Linked DNA regions of Homo sapiens: region 2 is linked to region 1. The links come from fine-mapping of genetic effects on gene expression. Tissue or cell type: whole blood. Region 1 holds a variant in brackets; the other region holds the start of a gene. All regions are shown on one strand. Distances are from middle to middle.

Region 1 (2,500 bases):
ATAACACTACCAATTTCCTAGGGAGATAGAGATAACCTAGATTAGGTGCTAGGTGTGCGGTATCAGACACACAGTGTTTAGTAAATGGTGGCCACCCTCAGTGCTGTTACCATCAGCCCTCCCTTTTTTCTGGGTGGCATAGCCAGAGCTTCCATTATTGGTGATTTATGCAGGTTTATCCATTCCACTGGCATTCCTCAGTTGCAGCTAGAACACTGGCATGGGTGAAGGGTCAGATCTGGTCGTCAAAGCTCCAACCACCAGCTTTTGCTGTATGCTTCCCTTTTGGCTAAATGTTAATTGCTTAGGCACACCCGGTTCCTTGGCGCGGTTGTCCTAGCCGTGGGTATATGGCTCAGCTGTCATCTTAGGCCCCTCCAGAAAAACAGCTCCATGGCAGTGCAGATTATCTGGACTTGGGTATTTTCTTGGTTTTCTGGCATGCCCAACCCACTTAGGCGTCACAGGATGGAATGCAAGTTCTGCTCAGTGGGAGGCTAGGATCTTGGCAACACTTTTGTAGTCACAGGTTGAACACAGAAACCAGTCACACATTTGTGCTTTAGTGACACTGGCAAGGGCTGACATTTTGCTCCCTTACCTGCTGGAGCAGCGGTTCGGAGAGAGAGGGAGCCTCACAGTGGTAACGGCAGAACATGGCCCCAGCATCAGAGCTTTGCAGAGGGGAGAGGCAGAAAAACAGAGGGACAGCCATTCACCTGTGCTTTATACTGCAAGCTGGTCTTCCATTACTATTTTAGTAATAGTCATGTACATCATTGCTTGTGTTGGTTTCTTTCATTCAGTGTATACTGAGAGCTTGCTATGTATATGCCAGGGTGTTAGGGGCATTTGTGCGTTATTTTTGTGGACTCTAGTGTCTTTCATTCTGGGGGAAAAAAGTCCTGTGAAGCAGCCCTTCTCTATATTTTACAGGAAATCAGAATTCCTAGGAGCTCAATGGCTTGTCTGAGGTTGCATAGCTAAGTGACAGAACCAGAATTTTCATTTGAACCAGAATTTTCATTTGAGCCTTTAAGTCTGGCTTTCTGTGGTTTCAGTGAAACTTCTAAACAAATGCCAGTGCCCAGGCCTCCGT[G/TG]GAAGGGATTCAAGGGTAAAGGAGTCTTTCTGGCTGGATTTCCAAGTTCACTTTTCAGCCTGCTATCCATGTGCAGGAACCAAGTAGCAGCACCAAAGCTTGGATTTTTACAAAAGTGATTTGGAGCCAGGCGCCGTGACTCATGTCTGTAATCCTAGCACTTTGGGAGGCCGAGGCAGGTGGATCACTTGAGGTCAGGAGTTCGAGAACAGCCTGACCAACATGGTGAAATTCCATCTCTACTAAAAATACAAAAATTAGTCAGGCAAGGTGGCGTGCGCCTGTAGTTCCAACTACTTGGGAGGCTGAGGCAGGAGAATCACTTGAACCCAGGAGGCGGAGGCTAAGTGAGCTGAGATTGTGCCACTGCACTCCAGCCTGGGTGACAGAGTGAGACTCTGTCTCAAAAATAAGAAAATAAAAAGTGATTTGGTTGGCCTTGTCAAGAGTTTAGACAAACTCTTTAGACAAGAGTTTAGACAAGTTTGTGAACTGAAGCCAGCTAGGAATAAAGGGCCTGCTTGACTTACCCACCGTTAGGCAGAGAAGGGGCAGACAGCAGAGATGGCTGGATCTGCCCCCACATGAAGCCTGGATGTGGGGACCACGGCCACCACACCTGAGGAAGTGATCTGAGAGTGGGAGCATGTGGGACAGACCCCCACTGCAAGGCCAGGGCTTCGCCTTCACGTGGCCCAGTGGACGGCAGTCTCCCTAGTTTCACCAAGCTCGTAAGCCGCTCCCACGGGAAGGTGTAAGGGAGGAGTGGGATTCCACCCATGTTGCTGGCCTGGGGGCCAGTGCACTGGAGTTTTCCAAAGGACAGTCTGCAAATCAGAGCTCTGTGCAGTCCTGCGGCCCTCTTGAGAGAAGTGTCCCTAACAGATCCTTCAGCTGACTCTTGGTGTCCACAGAATCAGCAGCGGCACCAGAAGCTTAGGATGAAGGTATCCCTTACTTGCTCCCACCAGAAAAACTCTGGCTGGAGCTTACCAGGCACTAAGAGGTGGGAATCTACCTGCTGCGGTGCCCAATCCTAGCAGGCCCTAGTAAGAATTACTGGCCAGAAGAGTAGATGGGGACAAATGACTTTCCAATTTCAGTGGCACAGAGTGACAAATTCATTAGCAGCTTGAGCAGAAGAACCCCATCCAGAGCCAAGGGAAGGCATTCAATGCAGTGGAGCAAGTGTGGGCCATGAGGTAGCCAGACTTGGGTATGAGGCCTGGCTCTGCCTCTAGTAGACTTGATTCGCTTCTCTGCTTGTCTCCTCATCTCTGAAATGGTCACCGTCAGGAGCTATTGGAAGGGTTCACCAAGATAGTGCTTGCAGCCTGGGCAACATGGCGAAACTCCATGTCTACAAAAATTAGCTGGGCGTGGGGGTGCATGCCTGTGTTC
Region 2 (2,500 bases), 130 kb before region 1:
TCTCCTGTCTCAGCCTCCTGTGTAGCTGGGACTACAGGCACCCACCATCATGCCTGGCTAATTTTTTTGTATTTTTGTAGAGACAGGGTTTTGCCATGTTGACCAGGCTGGTCTCAAACTCATGACCTCTGGTGATCTGCCTGCCTTGGCCTCCCAAAGTGCTGGGATTATAGGCGTGAGCCACAGCGCCTGGCCCTAATATTGTATATTTCAAAATATGGTAGCTAGAAGTGGGGATTTTGAATGTTCTCACCCCAAAGAAGCCATAAATGTATGAGGTGATGGATATGCTAAGTACCTTGATTTGATTTTTTTACACAACGTACACAGGTACCAAAACATCACATGGTACCCCATATTTAGGTACAATTATAGGTTGCCGAAAAAGTAATTGCGGTTTTTGCTATACTTTTATATGCAAAAACCGTATAACTTTTGCACCAACCTAATATTACATGTCAGTTAAAAACAATTTTTTAAGTGGCTCTCTTTTTAAGTGGGTATTTGGGAAAAAAAAAATGTGGGAGCCAAGAAGGCCTTGTCTACTTCGTTTCCTGCTGTATCCACAGGGCCTGGCATGTAGTAGGTGTTCAGCAAACATTGGTTGATGAATGCATGATGACCTATCTGTGCAAACCTCTAGGCTCAAGAGGTGTGTGTGTGTGTGTAAGTATTTTAGGGTGCATGTGTGGCAATGAAACTGTATATGACCTCCCATCTTCTGAGTGACCCCTCCTCCCTCACGCTGTCAGGAGCTTTCTGGGGAATATTTCATTTATTCCCTACAACGCTCTGTGAGGCAGGTTTCCTTCGTATCTATATGACAGACGAGGAAACTGAGGCTCCGCGATCATCTAAGTTATATAAAATATGTTCAGAAGTGAAAACAGCATTAATAGGCAGAAAAGGACCTCCCCCTTCTACCGCTTACCCACCGCTTACCCAGACCCTCCCCTTCCCCGCGCTGGGTCTCCCAGGATTCTTCTTTACTTTCTTTTCTATAAAATACAGACGGGGGGAGGGGGGGCGTCTCACTGTGTTACCCAGGCTGGTCTCGAACTCTTGGCCTGAAATTATCCTTTCACCTTAGCCTCCCAAAGTGCTGCGATCAGAGGCAGGAGCCACCGCATCCAGCCTTCTCCCGGGACTCTTCAAGAGTCGCTGCGCCGGGGCCTAGGCCGAGGGTGCACAGCGCGTAGAAAGCGCCTGGGAGAGCGGTGTCCCCCGCGAGCTACCACAAGTTTATCCCTAGGCGCGGAAGCTACCACGGCCTGGGCGAGAGCCGGGAAATTCCCAGCGGGCGGCTTGCCCCGGGGGAGGCCGGCGAAGCGGTCTAGGCTGGTGCTGGCGGAGCCGATTCACGGACCCGGGGTTGTTTACTGGTCCGGGGAGTGGACGCGGCTGCCCACGAACCGGTCGCGGCTGGGGCGGCGGCGGCGAGCAAAGGGTTAAGGGGGCGGCCCCGGCGGCGGGGGCGGAGCCGGGATCTCGGCCGCACCTGGCGCCCCAGGCTCCCAGCCCCGACGCCTCCTGCAGCGCCTGGAGCCACACAGGGATCCGGAGCCTGGGGGAAAAGCGGCGCGGGAGCCGGCACCCACCGCTGGAGGGGCGGCGACGGCGGCCGTAGCGACCTCGGGAGGCAAGCGGAGCCGCCATGGCCGAGTTCCCGTCGAAAGTTAGCACGCGGACCAGCAGTCCTGCGCAGGGCGCCGAAGCCTCGGTGTCGGCGCTGCGCCCGGACCTGGGCTTCGTGCGCTCCCGCCTCGGGGCGCTCATGCTGCTGCAGCTGGTGAGAGCACGCGCGGGCCCACGGGGTTGGCCGGGGGCTCCCGGTCCGGCCAGGATGGGTGAGGGACTCCGGCGCTGCGTTCATTTTTCGCGAACCTTGCGCTCCCCACCCGGGCTCACACTGTCACCGACGCGCTGCGCGTACCCCTAGGGCGCTTCCCGCACGGACGCCCCCAAGATCGCCCTGCATCCCTCTCACCACGACACTACCCCGTGGCCGTCGCTGCGAGCGTGAGCACCCTGCACCGTGTACAGAGTGCCCACTGCCCGTGCCCCATCGTGCCCCCTCCAAGGTGGTTACCAGCGGCCACAGAAGCCCCCACCGGAGCCACAGTCACTGCGCACAACCCGCCAACCCTTCCCAGCCCTCCCTTCCCTCCTCTCTCTTTTTCACCCCTCTTTCTGCCCGGACAGTGCCCCCAGCCCTCTAGGGAACCCAGTCTGAGGCAAAGTCCACTCTCTGACCACCTTCTGTCCCGCTCCCAGCGGCTCCGGGTGGCCGCACCCATGAACATTCCTCATCTAATCTAGAGGGCACATCCGACTCCCCAACACGCACACTCAGGCACTACCCTGTGGGCGCCCGCGCGGGAGCCGGGCTCTTCTAGCTTTCTCTGGGTGACCCGCCAGGTTTCAGCCGGTTTAGCCAGCCCCACGGGACCGAGATATCGCTGGAGGGAGGGGTTTGTGGGTAGCCAGGGGCAAGACTCCT

The links. PIP is the estimated chance that this variant, and not a neighbour inherited with it, causes the effect.
Region 2: PLLP starts here. The variant in region 1 is fine-mapped to the expression of PLLP in whole blood (TOPMed, PIP above 0.99).

Annotation. Positions count from the first base shown.
Region 1 is chr16:57,148,921-57,151,420 of GRCh38, reverse strand. No RefSeq gene overlaps it. Among named protein-coding and RNA genes, the nearest start is that of PSME3IP1, 36 kb to the left of the region's middle. RefSeq lists an enhancer at 699-1,488. The variant G/TG (reference allele first, on the strand shown) is at 1,100.
Region 2 is chr16:57,283,695-57,286,194 of GRCh38, reverse strand. It overlaps PLLP (plasmolipin), which reads left to right and starts at 1,523. Exons shown (of 4, transcript NM_015993.3): 1 at 1,523-1,789. The coding sequence starts at 1,655. RefSeq lists a silencer at 1,330-1,739 and an enhancer at 1,784-2,445.